7 linked regions of the Homo sapiens genome follow. Changing the gene in region 7 together with the main gene of any one other region gives a genetic interaction. Each region holds a gene or a part of one and is shown on either strand. Other genes may lie near its edges.

Region 1 (4,411 bases), on a different chromosome or scaffold from region 7:
CCTGAGCTCAGGCAATCCGCCCACCTTAGCCTCCCAAAGTGCTAGGATTACAGGCAAGAGCCACCGCGCTGGCATGAGTCTTTTTAACATTGTATTTTAGGGTGTATTTACTTCTACATTATGTAGGTATAAGCCTCCAGAGGGGAAGGACTGCCAAAAAGGGAAAACAATAGTTTCTCTATCATAGAGCATTGTGAGGCTTAAGTAAAGTGATACATGTAATGCATTTAGCAGAGTGTTAGACTCTGTGCTCAATAAATGTAGCCATTGTAATTACCAGGCTACAGGCATTGCTATATTTAAACTACAATTTCTGCTAAAATGCACAGTCTATTGTTATTACTTTGATGCTGTTGATGTTGCCTAAATATTTGTGGAGTGGAATAAAGCAAATAACTTTTGGCAGAGAAAAGAATACAAGGATACAGTATATACAACGTATACAAATACATGTTTTTATGTATAAAATACAAAGGTAGTTAGATGCTGTATCCAGTCTTCTGCAAGACTATAGGTCAAAATACAACTAACAGCTGGACATGGTAGCTCATGACTGTAATCCTGGCATTTTGGAAGGTCAAGGTGGGCAGATCACATGAGGTCAGGAGTTCAGGACCAGCCTGGCCAACATAGTGAAACCCCATCTCTACTAAAAATACAAAAATTAGCCAGGTGTGGTGGTGCGTGCCTGTAATCTCAGCTACTAGGGAGGCTGAGGCACGAGAATTGCTTGAACCCAGGAGGCAGAGGTTGCAGTGAGCCGAGATCATGCCACTACACTCCAGCCTGGGCAATAGAGCAAGACCCTGTCTTTAAAAAAATAAAAAATAATAAAAAAAAAAGAAACAACCAACAGATATTTATTAGGTGTATACCTGTGCCAGACGTAATGATTATGAATGCCACAAGGTTCTTTGTCCCTAAAGAGTTTTCAGTTTGGTAAGATAGACATGCAAAAAGGAAATGATAAAACCAAGCAGAAGGGGATATGTTCTCAGGGACCTTAATTCAGACTATGTAAATTAGGGAGGAAGCTCCAAAGAGCATTTGTCGTGAAACTGTCAGTGGAAACATAGCAAATAAAATTAGGGATTGCTGGGTGCAGTGGTGTATGCCTGTAGTCACAGCTACTCAAGAGGCTGGGACAGGAGGATCACTTGGGCCCAGGAGTTCCAGACTATAGTACATTATGCTGATTGGGTGTCTGCACTAAGTTCTGCATCAATATAGTGACCTCCCAGGAGTGGGGGACCACCAGCTTGCCTTAGGAAGTGTGAACCACCTCAGGTTGGGAACAGAGCAGGTCAAAACTCCTGTGCTGATCAGCAGTGGGATTGTCCCTGTAAATAGCCACTGTACGCCAGCCTAGGCAACAGCAAGACCTTATCTCTAAAAGAAAACAAAAAAATTTGGGAGTAAGCCAATGTTTCATTTTACTAGGCTAAATTTTTGTTGGGTCTGATTATATTTGAAATCTAGATAAACTTAATTGTCATGATATTAGCATAATTAAAGGTGATGTCTTTCCTTGCAAATTAAAACAGCAAAACAGTCATTCTGTCTTTATGCTTCTGAGTTTGCAATATTTGATAGAGTTCTCCCCATCCCTAGTAGAGGGGCAGGGGTAGATAAACATGAAACCACATCCCTCTTATTTTATTTATTTATTTTTTTGAGATGCAGTCTCTTTCTGTCACTCAGGCTGGAGTGCAGTGGTGTGATTTCGGCTCACTGTAACCTCTGCCTCCCGGGTTCAAGTGATTCTCCTGCCTCAGGCTCCCAAGTAGCTGGGATTACAGGCTCCCACCACCACACCTGGCTAATTTTTGTATTTTTAGTAGAGACGGGGTTTCGCCATGTTCGCCAGGCTGGTCTTGAACTCCTGACCTCAGGTGATCTGTCCATCTCGGCCTCTCAAAGTATTGGGATTACAGGCATGAGCCACTGCTCCTGGACTCTCTGAGGTTATTTTCTTACTCCTGTTAGATCTAAAGATTTATTGTGACGGTCACATTAAGACACTGTTTGGGAAATTCTTTGAACATTGAATAACTGTAACGAATTGTGCTGTATCTGTGGGAACCAGCCTGTTTTGTTCCTGTTATATGCCAGATACACAATATTTGAGGGGGTAAAAGGCTGTCCAGAAGCCTAATTCCCAGATACTAAGGGCTGCTCTGCCCCTGGAAGCAGTGCGGTAGTAGAAAGGGCACAGGGTATGGAGACAAAGGTACCTGAGCGCCATCCCACTCTGCTGCTGTGTAGCTTGGTGTTCCTGTGTGAATCCATTAGTCATTGTAAGCCTCGTTTCAAAATAGAACCTCATCTGTCAATGGGGTGGCAATACCATCCTGATGGGGTTGTGAGGAACCAGTATGAGAACATACAGTGTACCTAATGAGTGTTTTTCTACTTGAAGTGGCTGAATTGTCTTTCAGATGATGAGCTAGTTGTGAACCCCAAAGTGTTCCCTCACATCAAGCTTGGAGACATTGTAGAGATTGCACACCCCAACGATGAATACAGGTGAGTGTCTCATAGGATCCATGGAACTGGGCAATTCACTGTTTCCAAATGATGTCCAAGGCAGATAGCTCTCTTTGCCTTTCAAAATGCTCATGCTGTGATGGCTCAATCCTGTAATTCCAGCACTTTGGGAGGCTGAGGTGGGTAGGTCATTTGAGCCCGGGAGTTCGAGACCAGCCTGGGCAACATAGAGGGACCCTGTCTTAAAAAAAAATGATCATGCCTTCTAGGATTTGATCAACAAATAATTTTTCAAAAGTGGTCCATTCCTTCGTTTTTTTTTTTTTGAGATGGAGTCTAGCTCTGTCACCCAGGCTAGAGTGCAGTTGTGTAATCTCAGCTCACTGCAACCTCTGCCTCCCAGCCCCAAGTGATTGTCCTGCCTCAGCCTCCTGAGTAGCTGAGATTACAGGCTCAGCCTCCCGAGTAGCTGAGATTACAGGCATGCGCCATCACGCCCAGCTAATTTTGCATTTTTGGTAGAGACAGGGTTTCACCATGTTGCCCAGGCTGGTCTTGAACTCCTGACCTCAGGTAATCCACTGGCCTTGGCCTCCCAATGTGCTGGGATTACAGGTATGAGGCACCGCACCTGGCCTAATTTTTGTGTTTTTTAGTAGAGATGGGGTTTCACCATATTGTCCAGGCTTGTCTCAAGTCATCCATCCTGCTAGGCCTCCCAAAGTGCTGAGATTACAGGCATGAGCCACCATACCGAGCCGTTTTTTTTGTTTTTTTTGTTTTTTTTTGTTTTTTTTGAGATGAAATCTCACTCTGTCACCCAGGCTGAAGTGCAGTGGTGGGATCTTGGCTCACTGCAATCTCTGTCTTCCGGGTTCAAGCCATTCTCCTGCCTCAGCCTCCTGAGTAGCTGGGATTACAGGCGCGTGCCACCATGCTTGGCTAATTTTTGTATTTTTAGTAGAGACGGGGTTTCACCATGTTGGTCAGGCTGGTTTCGAACTCCTGACCTCGTGATCCGCCTGCCTTGGCCTCTTAAAGTGCTAGGATTACAGGCATGAGCTACCTTGCCGCGCCCAGCCTTTTTTTTTTTTTTTTTTTTTTAAGAGACAGAGTCTCGCTCTGTCACCCAGGCTGGAGTGCAGTGGTGCCACCTCGGCTCACTGCAACCTCTGCCTCCTGGGTTCAAGTGACTCTTCTGCCTCAGCCTGTCGAGTAGCTGGAACTACAGGTGTGGGCCACCACACCTGGCTAATTTTTGTATTTTTAATAGAGACAGGGTTTCGTCATGTTGGCCAGGCTGGTCTCGAACTCCTGACCTCAGGTGATCCACCTGCCTTGGCCTCCCAAAGTGTTGGGATTATAGGCATGAGCCACCGAGCCCAGCCTCTTTCTGGTTTTAAAGCTGAGATGACAACTGAAAGGTTCTGTAGCATTTGTCCATTTCCTTTAGTGCGTATGGAGTTTCTTTGTTTCTTTTTTTTTTTTTGTGAGACGGAGTCTTGCTCTGTCGCCCAGGCTGGAGTGCAGTGGCACAATCTTGGCTCACTGCAAGCTCCACCTCCCGGGTTCACGCCATTCTCCTGCCTCAGCCTCCCAAGTAGCTGGGACTACAGGCGCCCACCACTATGCCCGGCTAATTTTTTTGTATTTTTAGGAGAGACGGGGTTTCACTGTGTTAGCCAGGATGGTCTCGATCTCCTGACCTCATGATCCGCCCGTCTCGGCCTCCCAAAGTGCTGGGATTACAGGCATGAGCCACCACACCCGGCCTAATTTTTTCTATTTTTTAGTAGAGAAGGGGTTTCACCGTGTTAGCCAGGATGGTCTCGATCTCCTGACCTCGTGGTCCACCTGCCTCGGCCTCCCAAAGTGCTGGGATTACAGGCGTGAGCCACCGCACCTGGCCGAGTTTCTTTGTTTC
Region 2 (4,411 bases), on a different chromosome or scaffold from region 7:
ACTCTGGGGCTCAAGTGATCCTCCTACCTTAGCTTCTGAAGTAGCTGGGACTACACACAAGCGCCATCACACCCGGCTAATTTTTTAATTTTTGTTTAAATTTTGTGTAGAGATGGGGTCTCTCTATGTTGCCCAGGCTGGTCTCAAACTTCTGGGCTCAAGCAATGCTCCCACTTCAGCCTCCCAAAGTGCTGGGAGCACAGGAGTGAGCCACTGTGCCTGGCAAGAAAATTTTTCTTGCCAATTCATAGATGGTGAACTAAAGGACATAGCAAAGGCAGCGCTATGCAGTGAAAAACAATAAAAGCAGAGCCGAGGCTGAGGTTCGTAAAGGGATCATGGGCTACTGATCTAAGGGAGACAGACAGAGGCTTGGCAGTTGATGAGGCATTTGGTCTTCACCCAGTGAATTACTGGTTTTGTTTACAGGCCATGTGACACAATCTCCTTCCAGGTCTGCCAAAAGCTACCATGAAAAGAGCAGACTCTTTTGGTAGTGGGTGTTTGAGCCCATGACACTTAGGGGCTACCTCAAGAAGGAAGCTTGAATCCAACTTCTAAAGGGTAAAATCCAAACACTAAGTTGTTAGGAAAATAGAGTAAAAGAAAACCCAACAGTGCTGTGTGCTGTCATTGTCGCTGCCTTCCCAGCCATGGAGCCATTACACTGGAGATAAAAGTTGTACCATATCCAAAAACAACAGTGAAAGCATCCACACCATTCAGTCACAAAGACTACACTGTTTATCTTTGCATTTCAAGCTTGTTAAGAAAAGCAGGCTGGGCACAGTGGCTCACGCCTGTAACCCCAGCACTTTGGGAGGCCAAGGCAGGTGGATCACCTGAGGTCACCTGCCTGACCAACATGGTGAAATCCCGTCTCTACTGAAAATACAATAATTAGCCAAGTGTGGTGGCAGGTGCCTGTAATCCCAGGTACTTGGAAGCCTAAGACAGGAGAATCACTTGAACCCCGGAGGCGGAGGTTGCAGTGAGCCGATTGGGCCACTGCACTCTAGCCTGGATGACAGAGCAAGACTCTGTCTCAAAAAAAAAAAAAAAAAAAAGCTTGTTAAGAAAAGCAGTTTGTAACCAGGGAGAGTGAAAGCCATCTGGATGCGAGGATGTTGGCTACCTTGGGAGGGGACTGGGTGGTAACTGGTAGGAGGCTCAGGGGGCTTTGCTGGTTATGCTGTTTCCCGACCTGGATGCTGATTATGTGACTGTGCTCCCTTTGTGAAATCCATGGAGCTGTCCACTTATGTGCACTTTTCTGTATGTCTGTTAATTTTCTTTTTTTTTTTTTTTTTTTTTTTTTTTTTGAGACAAGGTCTGGCTCTGTCACCCAGGCTGGAGTGCAGTGACACAATCTTGGCTTACTGCAACCTCTGCCTCCCAGGTACAAGCCTTCCACCTCAGCTTCCTGAGCAGCTCGGACTACAGGGACACAACACCACACCCAGCTAATTTTTGTATTTTTTGTAGAGACAGGTATAACCTGTTGGCCAGGATGGTCTCGAACTCCTGAGCTCAAGCAATCTGCCTGCCTCTGCCTCACAAAGTGTTGGGATTATAGGTATGAGCCATAATCCCACCTGGGCTCTGTTAATTTTCAGTGAAATGTACTGTCAAAGACTGCTTTGTCTTTGCCTAGAGAAAAGAATTAGGAGAGGCTTTTCCCTGTATAATGTTTGAGATCTTTCTAATTTTGACACAAGTAAATGCATTATTACATAATGAAACTCAATGTCTAGGTGAGAGGTTGGCAAACTACAGCCTGCAGGCCAAATCTGGCTCAATGCCTGGTTTTCTTTTTAATTGGGATATAATTGACATACCAATTCAGTGGTTTTTAATATGTTTAATATATTCACAAGGTTGTACAACCAACCTCACTACGTAATTCCAGAACATTTCATCATCCCCTAAAGAAACCCTGTAACCCTTGGCAGTCATTCCTTATTCCCCCACTCCTAGAACTTGGCAACCATTAATCTAGTTTCTGTCTCTATGGATTTGTCTATTCGCTACAGAATACATTTAACAGAAATGGAATCATAGGCATATGAAACATTAGCATGTTTCCAAGGTTAATCTATGTTGTAGCCTGTGTCAGTATGTTATATCTATTTTTATGGCTGAATAATATTCCACTGTGTGGATATTTGTTTATATTCATTCAATTGATGGCCATTTGGATTGCTTCCACCTTGTGGCTATTATAAAAAGTGCTGCTATTGGCCAGGCATGGTGGCTCTTGCCTGTAATCCCAGTACTTTGGGAAGCCGAGGCAAGCGGATCACTTGAGGTCAGGAGTTCAAGACCAGCCTGGCCAACAAGGTGGAATCCCGTCTCTAGTAAATATACAAAAAATAAAAATAAAAAAATTAGGCGGGTGTGATGGTGCACACCTATAATCCCAGCTACTCAGGAGGCTGAGGCAGGAGAATCGCTTGAACTGGGGAGGCGGAGGTTACAGTGAGCCAAGATGGCACCACTGCACTCTAGCCTGGGTGACAGAGCTAGACTCCATCTCAAAAAAAAAAAAAAAAAAAAAAACACTGCTATGAACACTTGTGTACATGTTTTTATGTGAACATGTTTTCAATTCTCTTTGGTATATTCCTAGGAGTAAAATTGCCGATCATATGGTAATCTTGTGTGTGGTTTTGAAGAATGGTCAAACTGTCTTCCACACTGGGTGCAGCATTTTGTGGTTTGGATTTGCATTTCCCTAAGACCTAATGATGCTGAGCATATTTATATGTGCTTTTCGGCCACTTGTATGTTTTCTCTGGAGAAGTGTCTATTCAAATCCTTTGCCCATTTTAAATTAGGGTTATTTGTCTTTTTAGCCCTGAGCTAAAAAACGTTCTTTTTATGTTCTGAACACTAGATTTTTATTAGATAACTAACTTGCAAATATTTTCTCCCATTCTGTGGGCTGTCCTTTTATTATTATTTATTATTATTATTATTTTTGAGACGGAGTCTCGCTCTGTTGCCCAGGCTGGAGTGCAGTGGCGCGATCTCGACTCACTGCAACCTCCGCCTCCTGGGTTCAAGCGATTCTCCTGCCTCAGCCTCCTGAGTAGCTGGGACTACAGATGCCTGCCACCATGCCTGACTAATTTTTGTATTTTTAGTAGAGATGGGGTTTCACCATATTGGCCAGCCTGGTCTCAAATGCCTGACCTCAGATGATCCACCCGTCTCGGCCTCTCAGAGTGCTAAGATTATAGGCATAAGCCACCGCACCTGGCCTTTTTATTTATTTATTTATTTTTTGAGACTAGGTCTTGCTCTGTCACCCAGGCTAGAGTGCAATGGTGAGATTATAGCTCACTGCAATCTCCAGCTCCTGGGCTCATGTGATCCACCCACCTTAGCCTCCCCAAGTAGCTGGGTTTATTCTAACAAGTGTGTGCCACCATACCCAGCTATTTTTTTTTTTCTAGATATCGGGTCTCACTATGTTGCACAGGCTGGTCTCAAACTCCTGGGCTCAAGTGATCCTCCCACCTCAGCCTTCCAAAGTGCAGGGATTACAGGCATGAGCCACTGTGCTCAGCCCCATCCATTCCTGCCAGTGCAGCTGGAGGAATCTATTCAAACCAGAAATCTGAGCACATCACTCATTTGTTTTAGCTCTCTGTGGATAAAAGCCAAATCCCTAATACATTCTGGAAGGTTTCTAGTTAAACTGCACATCTACTATCTGCCTGGCTCTGCCCACATTCTGCTTCCCCTCCTGCTACCATAGATGAGCTCCCGGCCCTTTGCTGAGGCCGATGCCTCCATCCCTGCTCTGTTCCACCCCCCTCCTTCCTGAGGACCTAGTTCCTTTCTCATTTTTCTCTCTCTCTTGCCCAATCAACACACACTCCATGCTACATTACTTTCCTGAGTGTCTCGCCCAAGTCTATCAAATCTATGTCTTGAAACACCTTCCTCACGCAACCTCCACCTCCTGGGTTCAAGCAATTCTCCTGCCTCAGCCTCATGAGTAGCTTGGACTACAGGCATGCACCACCTTGCCCAGCTAATTTTTGTATTTTTAGTAGAGACAGGGTTTCACCATGTTGGCCAGGCTGGTCTTGAACTCCTAGCCTCAAGTGATCCACCCACCTCAGCCTCCCAAAGTGCTGGGATCACGGGTGAGAACCCCATGCCCGGCCCCTCACTTAAGCTTCTAAGACATCAATGCTCCTGGTTATCCTCACACTTTTCCAAACGTTTGTTCCTTTTGTGGGATGTACAAAAAGAGCTAAGTCTCAAAATATTATTATACACATTCCAACAAATGGAAAATGTAATCTTATTAAATTCCTGTGAGAAATATCCCAGCACAGAAACTATGATTTCTTGCCATTTTGATGCTGGTATTAGCTAACAGAAAGGTGCCTACTCA
Region 3 (3,469 bases), on a different chromosome or scaffold from region 7:
TTTGGTTCCCTGCGTTGCTTTCTTGGCCCCAGGATTCCCGGATTGCTTGCCTTCTGGCAAAATGTGGAGTGAGGGACTTAATCGCCAGCAACAAGAAAGGTTTCTTTGCACACTTATCCGGCTGATCTATAAGCAGTGAATAATTGCGGCATCTCAAATACAGCAGAAAGTCTTTAAATCTGTCCGGCAAGTTGTTAAAACCCGTAACCACCGACGTGACCCTCAGGTCAGGTTCGCAGTAGTTCAGATGGCTTATATTGGAGAGCCTGCCCGCCTCCCCCGTCTGGTTGGTCAGCATGCTCAGGATGGGGTTGTACTGCCGGTTCAGCTTCTCTTGCTCTCGGTTCCAGTATGCCTCGGGAGGGGTAGATATCTTCCAGAACTTCTCTTTGGGTATTATTACTTCCCCTTTTCCATTTTTTTCTTGGCTACTGCTTTTGGAGACTTCCATAATAAAATAAATGAAGACATTTGCCATCATCAGGATACCCAACAACTTTATTCTTCGACGTCCAACACTCATTTCTCATATCTGGAATAAAGGGGTGGAGTATTGTATCAATTACTTATCAATTTGCATTTGCACATACAATTTATTTTACCTGTCTCCCCAGGAATAGTGGTTTACAGCAAAGACTCTACACTTGCACTGCCTAGGTTCAAATCTTGGCCCTTCCTTTCTAGCTTTGTGATCATGGGCAAGTGGGATAGTCCCTGTCTCAACTTCTCCATATATAAAATGGGAATCAAGCCCACTTCAAAGGATGGTTGTGAGTATATGATGTTATATGGAAAGCTTTTAAAATAGCGCGTGGCTCACAGCAAGCACTATGTAAGTGACTGTTTGAGACATGCTGAAGCTAGAAATACCTATTACTAAATAACCTCAGGAGAGTTCAACTTCCTTGCTTACAATGGCACATACAGTGCTTGGCAAACCGATTTGCCTAAATTATAACAAATACATTTTTATACTGTGTTTAGTATACACATACATACACAAAACTCTATTTACATGTGTGACGCATTGTGTGCAGTTCCATGTCATTCACTCTCAAGTTCTCTTCTATTTCATTTGAAAAACTTTGAGATTTTAAAATGTAGAAACAGGGACTGGTTACGTTGCTCAGGCTGGGCTCAAACTCCCAACCTAAGGTGATCCTCCCACCTCAGCCTCCCAAAGTGCTGGGATTATAGGCATGTCTGACCCTATCTCTCTCTCTTTTTTTTAATGTTAGTCCCAACCCTGAGTTATTTTCCAACCTACCATTTTACAGATAAGGAAACCAAAGCAGAGAGATTAAGACACTTGCCCAAGGTTGCAGGGCTAGGAAGCAGGAGACAGGAACCACAGAGCATCTCAGACAGAGAAAATGAAAGCAGACTCAGGACAGCTTTATCCCAATAGCCAAGAACTGGCAACAGCCCAATATCAACAGAACAGATGATCAAACTGTGGCATCTGCATACAATGGTATATCCCCTCGGCAATAGAAAGGGAAACTATTGTGGATGAAACATTACAACATTACATTGTGAATGAAGGCCAGACCCAAATTTTCATTTATATTAACTTCAAGAACAGGCAAAATGAATTTAGGTTCTAGAAATCTGAAAGTGATGGAGGTGGTGGGCTTAGAGAAGGATAGGAAGGAACTTCCTGGGGTACAGAAATGTACCATGTAGGTCTTGATCCTGATGAAGGCTCCACGGATGTATGCATATGTCAAACCTGAAGTGTATATTTAAGATCTCTATTGTTTGTAGCAAAAAGGGAAATACAAATGATATTTTAGTGAAATATCAAAAGATTTCAGGCTGTGGGCAATGGAAGAATAAAGAATGAGTAATGAGATGGTTTGCTGGGGATATCCAAGGTTCTAACACTATTGACATGGATGACCTATACAAGAATGAACATTTAAACCAAGGTGACATTAAAAGATAGCCCAAAAAAGTGGGATGGCAATGTTCTATAAAGAGCTGAAGATTTTCTTATCAGGTTAATTCAACTGGGAATTTATCCTTAGGTACTATTACTCATTCCCATTTTATACCTGAGGAGGTACACATTTAAAGAAGGGCAGACTGGAATACCAGCCAAGGCAAACAGATTCCAAGTCTGTACCATGCCAAAAGGTAGCTACACTTCTCCAATCCCTAAAAGAAAGCTTTGCAACTATTTTAATCTAGTATTTGCTTTTTGAAAGGAGAGGATTTTTAAGTTCACTGGATTCTAACAAACGGTAAAGTAGAAAAATATTTGTCATGCTGAGAATGCTGTAAAACTATTACATATTAGAGAGCCCAGATGAGATCAACAGGAATTCACAAGCTATTGTGTGTCTGTAAAGATCTGCCTAGTAGACCTTTATCTGGTTGCTTGTATTTACTACTGCTGAAACCACCTTTGCAAAGATTATGGACAGTAAGAAATCTAGCATGGCTGACTCCATCTTGCGTCTACCCTCACAGGCTAGCTGTCTCCACTCATTCCTGGGCATAGGCCAAGCTAACCACGGGAGAAATTTAGTTTACAGTTTAACTTCGAAGCAAAGATGGTAACAGTCCCTCCATAAAACTGATCCCTTCCTTGTTCAGGGGGCTGAGGCTAATGAAAGGTCACAAGATTAGGATTGAGAGGGGCCTGAATTCTGCTAAAATGTAAGCACAGTTTTTATAATCCCGTATTGCTCAGAAGTCATGTGGCCAGAGGCCACAAGATCTTTGACTTCCCCAAGTGCTCCTGTAGTTAACACCACTATTATAGAAACTAAGATTGGTCTTCTGAATGTTTCTCAGACTTACCCCACCCAGACTAGAGACTCATGACTCCCCCCAACCCCTGCAGACTCAGCACATGGCTTTGATTGCATCCACAGCCAATCAGCAGCACCCACTCCCTGGTCCCCTGCCCACAAAACTACTCTTGAAAAACCTAACCTCATACCTTTGGAGACTTCCGTGATAACTCCAGTTATTTCTCAAATACTTCTCAAAAAGAAAAGGTTCTCTCTAACTTGGGACAATTCTCCTAATGCTAAAGTGAGCCCTTGACCCAGTACTGCTGTCTCTAGGTCTCAGGCCCTTCCTAGTCTGGAAGGAAGGGCAACAGGAAATGTGTGATGGTGAAAAACTACAATGAAGAAAAAGATTTGCAAAGGGGCCAGGCAGAGTGACTCACGCCTGTAAACCCAGCACTTTGCTTTGGTAGGCCGAGGTGGGCAGATCACTTGAGGCCAGGAGTTTGAGACCAGCCTGGCCAACACAGCAAAACCCTGCCTCTACTAAAAATACAAAAAAGGCATGGTGGTGCACTCCTGTAGTCCAAGCTACTTGGGAGGCTGAGGTTGCAGTGAGCTGAGATCGTGCCACTGCACTCCAGCCTGGGTGACAGAGCAAAACTACTCAGGAAAAAACAGCACATACTATGAACAGCTTAATACCCGGCAAAAATTTAACTCAGTAA
Region 4 (4,411 bases), about 180 Mb from region 7:
AAGAGCCTCATGACACATTCTTTTTCAAATAAGATTATATTTAAAATGTAGTGATAATTTTGTTTGGAATAACTTTTTTTTTTTTTTTTTTTTTTGTGGCACAATCTTGCTCTGTCACCCAGGCTGGAGTGCAGTGGCACAATCATAGTTCACTGTAACTTTAAACACCTAGACTCAAGTGATCCTCCCATCTCAGCCTCCCAAGTGGCTGGGACTACAAGTGAGCACCACCATGCCCGGCTATTTTCTTTTTTATTTCTTTTAGAGACAGGATCTCACTATGTTTCCCAGGCCAGTCTTGAACTCCTGGCCTCAACAATCCTCTGGCCTTGTCCTCCAAAAGTGCTGGGATTATAGGCATGAGCCACTTGTGCCTTACCTGAATTCTCTGTAATATGCTGGTATAGATTATCTTTTAAAAGAACCTCATTTGGGAGGCCAAGGCTGGCAATCGCCTGAGGTCACGAGATCAAGACCATCCTGGCCAACATGGTGAAACCCTGTCCACTAAAATACAAAAAATTAGCTGGGTGTGGTGGTGCATGCCTGTAGTCCCAGCTACTAGGGAGGCTGAGGCAGGGGAATCACTTGAACCCGGGAGGTGGAGGTTGTAGTGAGCTGATATTGGGCCAGTGCACTCCAGCCTGGTGACAGAGTGATACTCCGTCTCAAAAAAAAAAAAAAAAAAGAACCTCATGTTGTTACATCCTTTTGCAAGTAAGATTATATTAAAAATATAATGACAGTCTTGTTCGGGATAAACATAGTTTTATATACTTATAAAGTCAGGGCATACGTTAGATTTATTATGGACTGATTCTTAGCTAAAGGACGCAGTGGAAACATCCTCCGAGAGGTTTCCATTCATTGTTAGTTTTTCCCTTACAGATTTTTCTTTAAAGAGTAAATTTTATATTGTGGGAAATGAGACAACATAGCTACTATTTAGATAATTACATAAATTAAAGGCTATTTTAATAATATCCTAGGTATTCAGAAATTCAATATTAGCAATTACAGAGAAATTAGGGGAAGTTTATTATATGTAAGTCAACTGTTTTTCTTTTATATTTTTCTTTCAATATATTTTTCTTTTATAGTTGAAATAGATCATGTAGATCTATTTTAATTTTATCACCTTCTTGCTTTCTTGGTCTACTAATTTCAAAGTTCTGTGTGCATTTTGAGACATTACTGAAAATGCCGATTTGTCTTAAAGTTGACTTCATTTTTAACATGAAAGATTTTTTCTTAAATGTCATATAGTTATTACATTTTAATAGATCTAATTCAGGAATTAAAGTTTTCCCTTTTTCTCTCTTCTGTTTGTTTGACAGTTTGCAGATACTCAAAGCCTTTTGCCTTTTTGTAATGATTATTTTATTTATTTTATTTTTTTTGAGACAGAGTCTCACTCTGTCACCCAGATTGGAGTGGAGTGCCGTGATCTTGGCTCACTGGAGCCTCCGCCTCCTGGGTTCAAGTGATTCTCCTGCCTCAGCCTCCAAGTAGTTGGGGTTACAGGTGTGTGCCACCATGTCCAGCTAATTTTTTGTTTTTTGTTTTTGAGACAGAGTCTCCCTCTGTCATCCAGGCTAGAGTGCAGTGGCGCCATCTTGGCTCACTGCAACCTCCACCTCCCGGGTTCACGCCATTCTCCTGCCTCAGCCTCCTGAGTAGCTGGGACTACAGGCGCCCACCACCACGCCCGGCTAATTTTTTGGATATTTAGTAGAGACAGGGTTTCACCGTGTTAGCCAGGATGGTCTCGATCTCCTGACCTCGTGATCTGCCCACCTAGGCCTCCCAAAGTGCTGGGATTACAGGCGTGAGTCACCACGACCAACCAATTTTTTGTATTTTTAGTAGAGACAAGGTTTCACTGTGTTGGCTAGGCTGGTCTTTAACTCCTGGCCTCCAGTGATCCACCTGCTTCGGCCTCCCAAAGTGTTGGGATTGTATGCGTGAGCCACCATGCCTGGCCTTGTAATGATTATTTTTTTGTAATGATTTTTAAATAGAGATTCATATATTGGAAATGAATATGAGTTGTTTTTTTTTTTTTTTTTTTGAGACAGAGTTTTGCTCTTGTTGCCCAGGCTGGAGAAATGAATATGAGTTTTTAAAAATTAATTATGAATGTATTAACATTTGTATTTCAGGTTTTTTGTGACATCGTAAACATGAGCCCCACACAGTGGGACTTCCCTGTGGAATTATGTTGCCGGCCTATGGCCTTTGTTACTCTAACGGGCCTGGATGTAGTTTATAATGCAGTCCATCGAGCTGTCTGGGACGCCTTCTGTGCAAATCGGAGAGCTGATCGAGTACCAATTTCTTTCAAGGTGCTCCCAGGTGACCATGAGTATCCCAAATGTAGACCCAAGGTAATGGCATTGTGATGGCATGTGTTCTTTCCTTCTCTCTCTCTATGTGTGTGTGTGTGTCTTTTTTGTTCTGTTGTGTGTGTGGAGTTTATCAAGACAGTGGTCACAGTGGTGCATAAAGAAAGCCTTAGGCATTTTCATGTAATACACTGCATGTATATTTAATAATAGTTCTTTTTTTTTAAACTCCAGAGGAATAATTACTTTATAAAGCTTTCTATCCTATGAGCCCAGGTTTTCCCTTTTTTGTTTTTAGGAAAAAACCCAACATAGTCCCCTCTAAAAGGAAGGTCTTGCATTCCCCACCATCATTACTAATGTCGTTTTTGAATCCCATGGTCTGTGCAATGTGGCTCAATTTCACAGATTTTTTGAGCACTTGCTTTGTGATAGGTACCTGGAACCATGCAACAAGCTAGTGATACGAATTTAAGTGAGACAGGTTCCCTATTCTTGAGGAGTTTTACATAAACTAACACAGTTTATTCATTGCGGAATGAAGAAAGGTATTAAGTTCAAAACTGACTTTTAAGGTGAACGACATAGTAAAGACGACTTTACCTTAGATAATAATTATTATCATGATGATAGTATCACTAATAGCTAACATAGTTGTAAAAAAACAGTAAAACAGTTTACTGTTTTAAGCAGTTTATGTGTAGTGATTTGTTATTTATCATAATCTTATGAGGTTGGTTTGAAAGTTAGGTGATAAAACCCTTTTAGTTCTGACCCCTATCCTTTTTTTTTCTTTTGCCCTAGAGCAGTGTCTCTGACATAGTAGTCTCTGGACCAAGTATGTCATCATAACCTGGGGTATTTATTAAAAATGTAGATTGCAGCCCTCCTCTTTGGTTTCTGGGAATATAGGACTTGGTCACCGGCTGATTATTTTTGTGTGTGTTTGAGAACCACACGACAACATTTCATATACTCAGCCCTGGAAACTGAGCTCTCTGAAATTGTGCAAGTAATAGCATCCCAGCCCTGGCCCTCACACGATTATTTTTCTTTTCTTTCTTTTTTTTTTTTTTTTTTTTTGAGACGGAGTCTCGCTCTGTCCCCGAGGCTGGAGTGCTGTGGCGCGATATCGGCTCACTGCAAGCTCCGCCTCCTGGGTTCGTGCCATTCTCCTGCTTCAGCCTCCCGAGTGGCTGGGACTACAGGCGCCCGCCACCACGTCCAGCTAATTTTCTGTATTTTTAGTAGAGACGGGGTTTCACCGTGTTAGCCAGGATGGTCTCGATCTCCTGACCTCGTGATCTGCCCACCTTGGCCTCCCAAAGTGCTGGGATTACAGGCGTGAGCCACCGTGCCAGGCCTACATGATTATTTTTCTTTAGTGTCATGTTTGTGTCAAGAAGGCAGGGAGCCCAGCACAAGCCCTCTTTTCTCTTAATGCTCGAATTCAAGCTGCTTTTCATTTCTCTATTCCCAGCTTTTGGCTGAGTCCCCATGTTATTTTGTGTCAGACTTCCTTATTGACCTCATCTTTCCTTGCTGGAGGTAGACATTGGATCACCATGAAGTGGAGTAGTCTGAGCCAGCACAGCTGATTTGGAAGGAATGTGAGGTTTCAACTGCATCCCTCAGGGCTAACACTCAAATCTACAGCATCCTCTTCCCACTCTGTGGCACTCAGTGCCCAGACTCAAGTGGCTGCTGTGAAGCTTCTGTTTAAGAATTGTTCTCTGCTTTGTACTTCATCTACAAGTGAGGTGAAATGCATCACAGCAATATGTCTTTGAAATAAACAAAGCCTATTGGATTTTAGATAATATTTTATTTGAGCAGTTTTACAAGAACAGAAGCTGGAATGGTGAAGAATATAAGTAGAATTTACCTGGAAATGGGCTACTTTTTTTTTTTTTTTTTTCTTTAGCAAAGTATTTGAGACCCTTGACATCATTAGACATGCATCATCGTTTTATGCATTCAGTTATGGGGCTGATAGAAACTCTTTGGCTTCAGTCATTCTTTAAATGGGAAGTATAGCTTCTCCAGGGTTGAGATTCCACCTTCAA
Region 5 (4,411 bases), on a different chromosome or scaffold from region 7:
AAAATGATGGCTTGTGATACAATGAGACATATGATACCCTATTAGTTAGGGCTCTCCAGAGAAACAGAACCAATAAGAAGATGGATGGATGGATGGATGGATGGATGGATGGATGAGAGATTTACTGTGAGAAATTGACTCACGTGATTATAGAGGCTGAGAAGTCCCACAGTCTGCTGTCTACAAGCTGGAGACCCATGAAAGATGGAGGTGTGGTTCCATTCCAGGGCCAGAGAAGGAGTGCCAATGGTGTAAGTCCCAGTCCAAGAGCAGAAGACCAATATACCAACTCAGCAGTCAGGCTGAGGCAGAGAATTCTTGCTTCCTTGGCGGTTTTGTTCTGTTTAGAGCCTCACTGGACTGAGTGATGCCCCCCCCGCCGCCCATTGGGGAGGGTGGCAGTCTGCTTTTCTCAGTCAGCTAAGTTAAATGCCTGTCTCAACTGGGAACACCCTCAGACACAGCCGGAAATAATGTCTCACCAAATATCTGTACCCTGTGACTCAGTCAAGAAGACAGATAAAATTAGACATCACCAATAGTAAGAAAGGTCATGCTATAAATTGTCTTCACCATTAGAAAGTCATATGTTGAGGCAATTAAAGTTTATTTGCAATTAAAGTTTATTTGCATATGTAAAGATTTGACTTAATAAGTACTCAAAATCTTTGTAGCATTCATGGATTTGATTGGAATTCTTTGCGTTGTATTAATTTGATTTTGCTGTGGTATGACTATGTATCACCATTGCTGGGAAACTGATACATAGCAGAGAATCTCTCAGTGAGCGAGCCTAGTTGACATACCAACATCCACATCTCAACATGGATCTCTGTTTTTCTTGTTGTATGACTAAAAGCAAAACTGCTGTCTCGCACCTAAGCACACCAGATTCCTCATTTGGGGAAAAAAGCATTTGGAGATAAAGAACAACGTAATACTTATTTCCAAAATAAATGAAGCTTTGAGCCCTCTCCTGCAACAGCTAACCCTCTACTGAAAACAGTTTTATCCTTGACTTTGCAGTACCAAGGACTGCAGATGTGATGACCGTTACAGATATGAAAATCATGAGGGAAAACTGATTTTCCTGCTACTATGAACAGATTAAATTTAACTTTGCGAAACTTGTGAGGTTTTCTCCTTTAAGTATCTGCTATGTTTTTAGACAGTTCTTCTTAAGTCTGGGCTCCCTTACAAAATTGCTAGTATTAATACTCTTCTTAATGCTTTCATCTTTGGCTTTTCCTTATGTGCACACGTATTAATGCTTATAACATGAAAAAAACTTCTTCTGGAACTGTGTGTGACACATATGAGGAAATGACAGAAGGGCAGTGTCCAGAGGGCCTTGTGCCACATATTGAGTTGAAGCTGGAGAGAGGTTAAAACTAGAAATTGTTAGAGAGCTTTTCTTCATCCTAAGAATGTTTAAATGTCACAAAGGATTTTAAAGCAAAAACTAGGATGGATGGATAATGTGTAATGGGCCGTTTTCTGAGAAGAGGGAATGCCAGATGGAATGAGAAGGTGACGCTGAGTCATGCGAATGGAGGAGATAGGTGGGACTGATGCTTAGAGAACTGTAAGCTCAAGATTAAAAACTGGGAATTCTCAGCAGATAGGTGGTCTTTAAAATCCTTGGGCATGGCCAGGCCTGGTGGTTCACTGTTGGGGTTCAATCAGGCTGGTGGGAAAAATATTAGAGATAGTTATAGAAATAGACACATATCTTCTTGGAAAACTGAGAAGTAACTTCAGTAATAGATCTGGCTGAACGCGGCCTGGTTCCTTTACCTTTAGTTAAACAAATTAAACTAGTAATAAAGGAAGGCAGGGTAGTTTACCTAGCTAGCTTGTTTACTCATATAATATTAAGACTAACCTTTGATGTGCCATGGGTGCTTAAGTGCTTTTTACTTGGGAAGTCCACAATGTCAGTTACCCTCTAATGGTGTTGACTCAAGCCTTTGTGAATTAATCTTACTGAATAAATTTGAGTCTCACTAGCGGATAGGGCCATGGTCGCAACTGTTTACAGAACTCTCCAGGGAGTCTGTAAATGGCTCGGACACCCTCAGCTGGACTGGCGAAACAGGATATCTGTGTGTTAGTGTACTTTATTCATCCATTGCTGGGTCAGGGTCTGCAGGCAGACACCCACAGCTAGTGCCCCCATGTTGCCACAGCTCATGCCTATAATTAAAGCACTTTGGGAGGCCGACGTGGGCAGTTCACTTGAGGTCAGGAGTTCAAGACCAGGCTGGTCAACATGGTGAAACCCCATCTCTGCTAAATATACCAAATTTAGCCGAGCGTGGCGGCAGGTGCCTATAATCCCAGCTACTCTGGAGGCTGAGGCAGGAGAATTGCGTGAACCCGGGGGACGGAGTTGCAGTGAGCCAAGATTGTGGTGCTGCACTCCAGCCTGGGCAAGAGAGTGAGACTTCATCTCCAAAAAAAAAAAAAAAAAATTGGGGCAGGGACAAAACTGTGTAGGTAGTACAGAGTAAGAAAAGAGGGGACCTAAAAAAGTGAGTCTTAGAAACTCTAACAATCACCAAATCAAGAGGGATGAGCTTTCCAAAGGAAACTGAGAAGGTGACTGAGAAAGTGGAAAAAGAAAGTATGTAGAGGAAACTTATTTCAAGGGAGGTAAGAGTTGAGAGTGGCCAACAGTATCAAATTCTATGAATTAGAAAGGTCTAATGAAATCAGTTCTGAAAACATGTCGTTCAGATTTATTTTACTTGGGGTTGTAAATACATAGGGCACCAAAAACACTCTGATGCTTCATTATCTTTTAATGGTTATGTCACGGAAATGTAAAGTTGAGCTGATTTTTTTCTTGGTTGGCCCTCCTTGGGTTTGGCATGTTGTATGTGTATGTGTTAAGGAGATAACTGCAGGACCTACCATGTCTTTATTGAGTGATTTTTTTTTTCCCAGAAATACTCTTCGTGTTGATTTCTATGAATTTTTGCTCAAAAATAATAGTCACTTGAAATCTATACACACAGGCATATTTTCATCTCAGGAAAGGCTTATTCTCTACTTTGACTACTTTTTTCTACTTTTTTTTTTTCCTACTTTTCATTTGAGCTTTATTTCCTATGCTACTTTTTACGGTTCTCTGTGAGTCCTCATTATTTATAAGTTGGTTATTTATTTTCAGTTCTCCATTGTAAAATTTTCCTGATTCTAAAATTCTAAGAGCAGTTTATTATGTAGATCTTTTGCTTAAGGGACAGTGTAAAAACTGTGCCTTCAACATTTTAGGATCGTTAACTAATCTCAGAACAACTATAGTTAATTCAGTCTTCAAACTTTGTAATAGTGAATATTTTTAAAGGGCTTAAAGCTAACTTTTTTTTTTAAACAGAGATGTAAATATTAAATATATCCTATTGCATTTCAGTTTCTTTGTAAATATTCTATCATCATTCTGGTTATATCACTCATGTTTTAGACTGTCCATATAATATTTTAAGTGTCAAAATAATATTTTAAATATACTCATTGTATGGAAAAATAATTGTATACATTTTTCTTTTTTGTTTAGATATGGAGTATGAAACAAGACAATTGTGTCCATGATTTGCAAGCACATAATAAAGAAATTTATACTATCAAATGGAGTCCAACAGGACCAGGGACTAATAATCCAAATGCCAACCTTATGTTAGCAAGGTGATACTTCTGTTTCATTTTTCCTTTTATGAGTCTTCTACAAATCAGACTTCCAATAGATATGACAGAAGTTTAGGGAAGATTTCATGAAGTGGAAACTTTTTTTTTTTTTTTTCCAATTTCAGTAGTTTTTGGTGTATAGGTGGTTTTTGGCTACAAGAATAAATTCTTTAGTGCTGATTTCTGTGCACTGGTTTTGCAAGCAGTGTAGTGTACCCAGTGTGTAGTCTTTTATTCCTCACCTCTCTTCTCAGCCTTCTCCCCACTCCCACCTCCAGTCCACAAAGTTCATTATATCATTCTTATACCTTTGTGTCCTCATAGCTTAGCTCCCACTTACAAGTCAGAACATGATATTTGGTTTTCCATTCCCGAGTTATTTCACTTAGCATGATGGCCTCCAGCTCTATCCAAGTCACTGCAAAGGACAATATTTTATTTCTTTTTATGGCTAAGTAGTATTCCATGGTGTATGTATACCACATTTTCTTTATCCACTTGTTAGCTGATGGGCACTTACGTCGGTTCCTTAAGGGGAATCTTTAAACACTGAGTTTTATTATTGTTTCAAGTTATAATGATATTCTATATTGAAATAATCAAATATTGACTGATACCAAATACTGATTAAAATCCAAGCAATTGAGGCATAGCAAAATCTTCAGTATCTTTAGAAAAAAAAAAGATAAATGGAAAAATGTGGTCACTTTGGTGTTCAAAA
Region 6 (4,411 bases), on a different chromosome or scaffold from region 7:
TCACAGTATCCTGGCTGAAAGTGACTACTCCGTTTCTGAATTTATGTTTCTCACTTTGTGTCATTCTTCTGATATTGATCCCAGACTTTTCTGTTGTATAGATACTTGTATAGGCACCTCTATTATGTAGGTACCTATTATATACTTCTTGAAGTCAGAAAAGATGTTTTGTATGGCTCTGTATTTCTTTCAGGAAGAGCGTAGTAGAAGGTAGGCCCTGTATATTTAACTAATAAGAGAGGAGCCAAACAGGCTACTATATTCCTGTTTGTATATATTAATAACTTAACAGAAGTGGTGTCGTTGTTGTTGTTGTTGTTGCCCAGTTCTGCCACCTTCTTGCTTACTAATTTGGGCAAAATCCTTTACCATATTTCTTTAATGCAGAGTGTACCCATAGTTGTAAGATACACTCAGTGTGGCCCTCCCCTAGAAAAGATGACTTTAAAATCAGTAATGTGAGATCCACTTTGATTTTTTAAAAAGTCAGGGTCAAAAACATGCATCTTAGAATGAAGGAAATCACCTAATTTTTCTGTTTCCCTGTTTCCGTAACCTATAACCTTCTCTCAGTATGTGGGATAAAATGAGGATAAATGTGAAAGTACTTTGATTTCTCAAAGGAAAGGAACAATGCACATTTTTCCTTTTCAGAATTCCCTCTTTAATAGAAGAGGTTTTAAAAACTTTTACATGATCATGATGATACTATTGAGCTGTTTTCTTACTGTAAGACTAAATGCAGTTAAAATGTAGCTTTAAATTTTTTCCTTGTTCCTGTCTTGTTTCTGAATCATTTAGTAAAATGTGTCATTTAAATCTAGATGTAAAGTGGAAAGTGGTTTTTAATAAGCAGTTAATTATCAAGCATGGAGAGAAAAAATACGAATCTATAGTAATTTTTCTTCTGAAATTCTAGCATCTGCCAACCATTTTAACCTTATCACTAACCCTCCCTGCTGCTCAACGCTCAGCAAGGTAAACAAAGGCACAGGTTTGGTTGTGTTCTTATTTCTGCTAATATCTGAAGCACTCCTTCTTGTTCTTCCCTATCAAAAAAAGTTATGTCAAAAATTTTTGTCACCTGGCCAACTCCTTTTTATCCATTCTTTTGAGAGTTTAACAAATCCTACCACTCCCTGTTGCATTTTATGCTGGTCCCCTCCTCTCTTCCCTCATTCTGTTTCCCTTCTCTTCAGTCCCAGTCCCACTTACATTTTATTTTTTATTTTTCACTCTTATGTATATACCCACCACTTCCATTTTATTTTATTTTACTTATATTATTTATCTATCTATTGAGACATGATCTCTGTTGCCCAGGCAGGAGTGCAGTGGCACTATCACGGCTCACTCACTACAGCTTCAGTCTCCTGGGCCTAAGCAATCCTCCCACCTAAGTCTTCCAAGTAGCTGGGAACACAGGCACATGCCACCATGCCTGGCTAATTTTTAAATTTTTGTAGAGATGGGCTCTCACTGTGTTGCTCAGGCTGGTCTCAAACTCCTGGGCTTAAGCCATCCTCCCACTTCAGCCTCCCAAAGTGCCAGATTACAAGCACAAGCCACAGCTCTCAGCCCCACTTGCATTTTAAATTATCTTTTTAGTTAGGAAGGTCTTTGCCTTTGTCTTAGATGCCAGGGTACACCATTGAGTGTCAGATTTATTTAATAGTTAAGTGGATGGATCCTTGAGGGGAGGCACTAGGTGATGTTTCAGCTGAAATTAGAATGATGAGTAGGCACCGCCAGAGTGGGCATGGGGGAATGTCTGGTATGTAGTTGAAAGTTTATTTCTGGCTCAGGAGAGAGTAATCTGGGATAGAGACTTGGGAGCTAATAACATAAAATGGAGTCCCTATTACCTGAGAGTTCATTTTCTGAGCTTTTGAAATTACAAGGTTATGTAGGGAAGAAAAATTCTCATGATATGAAAATAATTATTAATAAGTTATCACCTTAAAAAATTAACTACTCAAGCTTACTTCTAATTCCCATCCTCCTGATTGGCGTAGGGGCTTGCTGATCATAATATAGTTCAAATTAGTTGCAAAGTGAAATTATGTATCATGCTAAAATTGCAAGCATTTGTTTCTTTTTTTTGAGATGGAGTTTTGCTCTTGTCACCCAGGCTGGAGTGCAGTGGCGCCATCTGGGTTCACTGCAACCTCCACCTCTTAGGTTCAAGCGATTCTCCTGCCTCAGCCTCCCCAGTAGCTGGGATTACAGGCGTCTGCCCCCACGCCCAGCTGATTTTTGTATTTTTAGTAGAGATGGAGTTTTGCCATGTTGGTCTGACTGGGTCTCGAACTCCTGACCTCAGGTGGTCCACTCACCTCGGCCTCCTTAAGTGCTGGGATTACAGGTGTGAGCCACCGCGGCAAGGCAGCATTTGTTTCTTTGATGCAAGTGATTTGGAGCATTGGTTCACATGCAAAACCATTGACAAATGGGGATCTGACAAAGTTGTCCTCCTGGAATGAAGTAGGTGGTGATTGTTCATTGAATGAATTGACAGATGAAAGCTTGGATGTAATGGTGGGAAATACTAGTGTTCATGGGGCACATGGGGAAAGTTATCAGCATAGTAGGCTAACAAGGAATAATCAAAAGAGCAAGAGAGACCTGGGCAGTACAGTGTCATGGAATCTGCAGAGAAGGCAGATCCCAGAGAGGGAGTGGTTACCAGTGTCATGTGCAGTAGAGGTCAGGGACTATTGGTTGAAATGGTAGGAAGACATTAGTGCTTTGACACAGTGTTTGATTCAGATGTCAGTGAGGGGGAGAACTAAGGTGTATTTTCATTTATGTTGTTAAAAAACTGTGGATTTTTATATATGTGTAAATAAAAAAAGTCCCAAGACTACACACTTAACCGTTACTTCTGGGGAGGAGAGTAGAATTATATGCTTATATTGATTACACTGAAAGAGTTGGTGTTGGTGAAATGGGGCTTTTTATATTGTAGGGTCCTCCTACTTTCTTTTTTAAAAAAAAATTTAAACAATATCACACATAGTATTGGTGGTTTTACAAAAAGAGTTATTGGGAAGTTACAAGTAGAACCATGCATGGGTTATTTTATTGAAGAATAAATGTGAGTGTGTGTTTGTATTTTAAGATAGGAGAGACTTGAGGTTGAAAGGTTAAATACAAGAGAAGGGGAGGTAAGGAGCAAAGTTGTAGAGGATTTGGGGAAGGATTGGGGAAGGAAGGGGATTAGATTCTCAATAGCTCTAGAGAAAAACAGAAGGAAGACCTCTTCCTGTGGGAGACTCAAATTTGAGTTTCTTTAGATTCTTGTGAATCACTGGAGTGTTTGTTTAAAAAAAAAAATATTCAGCAGCCCAACCCCTAGAGATTTTGATTGACTAGATTTGAGGTGGAGCTGAATGTTGCAAAACCTGCGGCCAGAAGTACTAGTCATTTTATTTTATTATATAAGCAGATTTGTTAGAATTACCTTCAAAAAACAACCTGGGAAGTTCAGAGGTAGAAAAATTCTATTAAAGCTTTTTTATTGAGATGTAGCATGCATATAAAAGAATATATAAAATACATATACACAGTTTAATAGTTTTAAAGAATAATGATAAACACCCATGCAAAAGGACTCCACATTCTTTTTCTTTTTTTTTTTTTCTTGAGACAGTCTCGCTGTCACCCAGGCTGGAGTGCAGTGGCGCAATCTCAGCTCACTGCAACTTCTGCCTCCTGGATTCACGCCATTCTCCTGCCTCAGCCTCCCGAATAGCTGGGACTACAGGCGCCCGCCACCACGCCCGGCTAATTTTTTGTATTTTTAGTGAAGACGGGCTTTCACTGTGTTAGCCAGGATTGTCTTGATCTCCTGACCTCGTGATCCGCCCGCCTCTGCCTCCCAAAATGCTGGGATTACAGGCATGAGCCACCACGCCCGGCCAAGGACTCCACATTCTTACATATGTCTCTTTCTCAACCAGTTTTCCACTGGCCTGAATTTTATATTAATCCTCCCCTGCTTTTCTTCATAGTTGTATCACTTATGGATTCCTAAACTGTATTATTTAGTTTTGCCCATTTTTAGATGTGCTTAGCTGTTTCATTTATCAAATGAGAGCTGAAACATATCTTTTAACATCATTTACAATTTAGATGATATACTTTTGTTAACCTTCATTTTTTTTTTTTTTTTTGAGACAAGTCTCGCTTTGTCGCCCAGGCTAGAGTGCAGTGGCGCGATCTCGGCTCACTGCAAGCTCCGTCTCCCGGGTTCACACCATTCTCCTGCCTCAGCCTCCCAAGTAGCTGGGACTACAGGCGCCCATGACCATGCCTGGCTAATTTTTTGTGTTTTTAGTAGAGACGGGGTTTCACCATGTTAGCCAGGATAGTCTCGATCTCCTGACCTCGTGATCCGCCTGCCTCGGCC
Region 7 (4,411 bases):
GGGACTTTGGGAACATGGTTGTCCCTTTCCTGCCTGGGCTACCGCGTGGCTGCCCGGAATCCCTGATGGGGTCACCAGTGTTTCACGTAGGACGCCCCCAACCCTCTGCCTGGCATTACTTCCAATTATAGATGTGAAGAGAAAAGAAACAGAACAAAGGAAGAAAAGGGTTAAAACCTGTTAAAGTCCACTCTGTGCCCCTGACCTTCCCAGAACCAGATGATTAAAGCTCATTAACACCCATTCCTTTCGCGTATGACGCAACTAAGCCTCATCGGGGCCAACTGGAGAAATAAGGGCTCTGAGGCGTCACAGAAGCATGGCAGCTTCCAGGCACCGCCCGACCGCCCCGTGCCAGGCAGGGAGCACCAGGTGGGGCCACTGTCAGCCCCACGGCAGCTGGGCAGAGGCGGAGCTGGGGCCAGGGCCCAGCCGGTCCCTCCCCTCCTCCTCCAAAGACCGGCCACAGGAGACCAAGCAGTACCCAGGACCGTTCGGCCAGCAGGAGGGGAGGCGCACGACAGAACCAAGGAGCAGAGTGACCCAGCAGGCTCTCCAGTGGCCGCGGCCACAAGCACGCTCGGCCCAGTCTCCCGCCCCATCCGCTGCCCCATCCGCCTGCAGGTGAGCAGAGGCCACCGAGCTGCCAGTATCCAGGAAGCAGGGAAGTGCCTCCTGGAACCCATGGCAGAGAAAAGAAATGCTCTGGTGGACAGCCCAGGGGTGCAGTGGGCCTGCAGCACACGCCTGCAGGGGACGGGGCATGGGTCTCCACTGACCACCCCAAAGCCGAGGGCTCCCAGTACGGCTGGGCCCATGCCCCTCCCGTGAGGTCCTCGCGCCCTGGCGTCCTCGGAGGAGCCACTGGCCATTCCACCCACTTTCCTTCAAGATAGGAAACCAGATCCCAAACGTGAGGTCTGCACGGTCAAAACCGCGTCCTGGTTCGCCTGTTCCTTCATTCCCTCTGGACGGGAGCTGCCCACGAGCACCATAGACAGGCCGCCCAGTGACACTGTACATGGCCTCCCTCTGCACGTGGCCTCCCTCCCCGCTGTGTGTGGTGGTGATGACTTCTCATGAGCAGAAAGGTTTATGTTGCTGTTTCTGAGTGAGTGGATAGACATCCGCTCTCAGTATCCTTGGATTTCACTTCTGATGAGGAAGGCATGGACACACGGGATCACTGCAGACCGCTCGGCTGCGTCAGAACCGCCTGGGGGGACTCCTGGGTGCTGGGTGAGTGGGAACCGGGTCCCTCGTCAGAACCGCGTGGGGGACTCCCGGGTGCTGGGTGAGTGGGAACCGGGTCCCTCGTCGGAACCGTGTGGGGCACTCCCGGGTGCTGGGTGAGTGGGACCGGGTCCCTCGTCGGAACCGCCTGGGGGGACTCCCGGGTGCTGGGTGAGTGGGAACCGGGTCCCTCGTCGGAACCGCGTGGGGGACTCCCGGGTGCTGGGTGAGTGGGAACCGGGTCCCTCGTCGGAACCGCGTGGGGGACTCCCGGGTGCTGGGTGAGTGGGAACCGGGTCCCTCGTCGGAACCGCGTGGGGGACTCCCGGGTGCTGGGTGAGTGGGAACCGGGTCCCTCGTCGGAACCGCGTGGGGGACTCCCGGGTGCTGGGTGAGTGGGAACCGGGTCCCTCGTCGGAACCGCGTGGGGGACTCCCGGGTGCTGGGTGAGTGGGAACCGGGTCCCTCGTCGGAACCGCGTGGGGGACTCCCGGGTGCTGGGTGAGTGGGAACCGGGTCCCTCAGCTGAACGGTGGGGAGGGGGGAGCAGGTGGAGACACCAAGCCCCATCAGGCTCAGGCACCCAAGGTGCCTCCTCACATCACCCATGAGCTGCCCCTGACCACCGTGCCAGGGTTCCCCGGACAGCCCACCCTTGCAGGCTTGGGGACACACCCAGGAGGCTTCACAGTCACACGGCCTGTGCTGAAGCAGGCTTTGCAGCATCCCCCAAGCCCAAGGCTGTTTCCGACTGCACGCACTTCCGGGCCAGAGAGCGCAGACCAACCACAAGGAACAGCTCCACAGGGGCCACGGCCCTGCTCCTGGGCCAGCCGGGTGGACACCTGAGATTTCCAGGGTTCCGTGTGGGGCTCCACCCTCGTGCTGGCGGCCTCCACATGGAGGCCCTCCGTGCCTCTCAGACACTTTCCGACAGAAACAGACAGCAGATGCCACGGACAGGCCTGACCACAGCTGTGCTCTGCCACCAGGTGTGCAGGAAGCCCTCCCTCGAGGGGCACCTGACCTCGCCCAGAGCACACCGGGGGTCAGGTGGCAGCAGTCCGGCCCGACGCCCATGCAGCCCAGGTCCCTCGACTTGATCCGAGGCAGTGCCTCCTCCACACGGTCGCAAAGAGACCGGCCGGCTTCACTCTGCCGCCGACGCCAGGAACCCCTACCAACCTGACATCTCTTAATATGGGCTCAGCTTCCACGACCATGAATTCGACTTTTCAAAGCTTTTTATCTTCAGGATCCCCAGGCAGAACCGCGTCCTGTCTCGGAGCCTCATCCCACGTCCTTAATTGTCTCGAGCCAAAGTGCTCAGGCTTCTGATCCGCGGCAATCACTGAAGCCTGCGTCGGGGTCAAAGTCTTACTAAAAATCAAACACAAGAGACACATTAAAATGCCATCGAAGGTCCGACCAGAACTCACAGACTCCAGGGAACGCCTCAGAAGTGGACCTCACTGCATCTGCCACACCCGGGACTGCTGTCTGGGACCTACCTGGACTCGGGGGCCTGCTGACAGCCAGGGGCCCCGGCTCCTGCCGCACACACGAAGGGCGCTCACCCTGAGGTTGCAGTGCCAGGCCCGAGGCCGCGCCCCTGTGGCCCCGAGGCCTACTCCTGGGAACAGTCCCCCAGGGCTGCGGCCACCCCCACAGGCTCTAGCCGCATCCAGATGTCCCCAGTGTCCAAGAACCAGGGGACGGAGGGCACAGGGTGTGTGCTGTGGGCAGGGAAACTGCGGAAAGGCTCTGCCTCCTGTTCTGGAAGCTTCTATCTCATGTCACTGATTCCCGGGCCTCTGTGACCAGGCAAGGACGTGGAACTTCCCAGGAGCCACCGGGAGAGGTGCTGCTGGCTTTCCAGCATCCAGCCTGGCACTGCCTGCACTGAGCCGCGCCGGCTCCACCTCCGACCCTCAGTGCATCCTGGCGACGCTCCCTCAATTCTCCCAAAAAAACTGCTCAGCTCTTCCTGACCGCTACGGCCAGGGCCTGGCGGGAAGCTGAGGGCACGAACCCCAGTGGCTGAATGCACAGGGGCAGGGGGCCCCTGAGAGGGCCAAGCCTTCCAGTAGAGGCTTGAGAGTGCACACGATCGCCCAGCCCTCGGGAGGGTGTCACTGAGCTGCCCACACCTGGCCCCTGCTCTGGCATGAAGACACAGCACCGAGGCTGACCCCAACGTGCAGCTGACATCAGGCTGACCAGGACAGGAGCCGGCCACCACCAGCCCAGCAGCATGGCAGGCGTGGGCTGAGACGACTGCCTGCCAGGCCAGAAGGGGCCACTCAGCCAAGCCTAAGACCCTGGTAGTGTGCTGTGAGGCCGCCCCTGCGCAGAGGCCTCGCAGACAAATCTCCAACCCTCAACTCCCTCTGCAGGATTCAAGCATACATGCCGACCATCTCCAGCTTCCAGAGACACCATCACAGGGGCTGGGGTGCAGCCCCACGCACGCACCTCCCATCCAGGGTCCCCAACACCACTCCTCATGGCAGGTGCTGTGTGGGACTCCCTGACGGAGGGCCCAAGAGCAACACTGTGGAGCGGGATCCCCATCACCTGCGCCTGAGCCCCCATGACCTGCGCTGCAGCCTCCTGCCCTGAATGCCAGATCTCCCCATGGTACCCGGATACCACATAAAAACAAACTAAAAGGACAGGAGAAAACCGCCTAAATGTCACATTTCACCCACGAGCCAGCCTGGCCAGGGGGCAAGGCACCGCGCCACCCACGCCCAGCCAAACTCATCAATGCCAGCCGATACTCATCAACGCCAGCCGATACTCATCAATGCCAGCCGATACTCATCAACGCCAACCGATACTCATCAATGCCAGCCAATACTCATCAATACTGGCCAAACTCATTGATACGGGCCAATACTCATTGATACCGGCTGATACTCATTGATACCAGTCAATACTCATCAATGCTACCCACGGTGGCCCAGTACCGGCTGCTGCTCGTCAAGACCGGCCAATACTCAATACTGCCCACAGCAGCATGGCACCAGCCGCTGCTCCTGGAGGATCATCGATACCCATCAATGCTGCTCAATGCTTATCTATACTGGCCAGTACGTGCCCACACCTGTGTCTCTGAGGAAGAAGCAGATGTGTGAAGGCCACCCTGGCCCTCCTGAAAGGACCCTGCAGTGAG

Evidence for each region.
Region 1: changes in CTBP1 (region 7) and DEPDC5 together harm fitness more than expected from each alone (negative genetic interaction), as found in Homo sapiens cells (one large-scale study listed by BioGRID).
Region 2: changes in CTBP1 (region 7) and VPS51 together harm fitness less than expected from each alone (positive genetic interaction), as found in Homo sapiens cells (one large-scale study listed by BioGRID).
Region 3: changes in CTBP1 (region 7) and B3GNT2 together harm fitness less than expected from each alone (positive genetic interaction), as found in Homo sapiens cells (one large-scale study listed by BioGRID).
Region 4: changes in CTBP1 (region 7) and TRAPPC11 together harm fitness less than expected from each alone (positive genetic interaction), as found in Homo sapiens cells (one large-scale study listed by BioGRID).
Region 5: changes in CTBP1 (region 7) and TBL1XR1 together harm fitness less than expected from each alone (positive genetic interaction), as found in Homo sapiens cells (one large-scale study listed by BioGRID).
Region 6: changes in CTBP1 (region 7) and RAB2A together harm fitness less than expected from each alone (positive genetic interaction), as found in Homo sapiens cells (one large-scale study listed by BioGRID).

Annotation. Positions count from the first base shown.
Region 1 is NC_000022.11:31,756,108-31,760,518, forward strand, and holds part of DEPDC5 (GATOR1 complex protein DEPDC5), read left to right. Parts: intron 1-2,438; coding exon 2,439-2,526; intron 2,527-4,411. UniProt on the Homo sapiens protein: As a component of the GATOR1 complex functions as an inhibitor of the amino acid-sensing branch of the mTORC1 pathway.
Region 2 is NC_000011.10:65,098,674-65,103,084, reverse strand, and holds part of VPS51 (vacuolar protein sorting-associated protein 51 homolog), read right to left. Parts: intron 1-4,411. UniProt on the Homo sapiens protein: Acts as a component of the GARP complex that is involved in retrograde transport from early and late endosomes to the trans-Golgi network (TGN).
Region 3 is NC_000002.12:62,219,275-62,222,743, reverse strand, and holds part of B3GNT2 (N-acetyllactosaminide beta-1,3-N-acetylglucosaminyltransferase 2), read right to left. Parts: intron 533-3,469; 5' UTR 524-532; coding exon 1-523. UniProt on the Homo sapiens protein: Beta-1,3-N-acetylglucosaminyltransferase involved in the synthesis of poly-N-acetyllactosamine. Catalyzes the initiation and elongation of poly-N-acetyllactosamine chains. Shows a marked preference for Gal(beta1-4)Glc(NAc)-based acceptors.
Region 4 is NC_000004.12:183,661,685-183,666,095, forward strand, and holds part of TRAPPC11 (trafficking protein particle complex subunit 11), read left to right. Parts: intron 1-2,162; 5' UTR 2,163-2,183; coding exon 2,184-2,387; intron 2,388-4,411. UniProt on the Homo sapiens protein: Involved in endoplasmic reticulum to Golgi apparatus trafficking at a very early stage.
Region 5 is NC_000003.12:177,033,477-177,037,887, reverse strand, and holds part of TBL1XR1 (F-box-like/WD repeat-containing protein TBL1XR1), read left to right. Parts: intron 1-143; exon of another isoform or gene 144-483; intron 484-3,562; coding exon 3,563-3,690; intron 3,691-4,411. UniProt on the Homo sapiens protein: F-box-like protein involved in the recruitment of the ubiquitin/19S proteasome complex to nuclear receptor-regulated transcription units. Plays an essential role in transcription activation mediated by nuclear receptors.
Region 6 is NC_000008.11:60,519,535-60,523,945, forward strand, and holds part of RAB2A (ras-related protein Rab-2A), read left to right. Parts: intron 1-4,411.
Region 7 is NC_000004.12:1,238,907-1,243,317, forward strand, and holds part of CTBP1 (C-terminal-binding protein 1), read right to left. Parts: intron 2,614-4,411; 5' UTR 2,426-2,613; coding exon 2,419-2,425; intron 1-2,418. UniProt on the Homo sapiens protein: Corepressor targeting diverse transcription regulators such as GLIS2 or BCL6. Has dehydrogenase activity. Involved in controlling the equilibrium between tubular and stacked structures in the Golgi complex.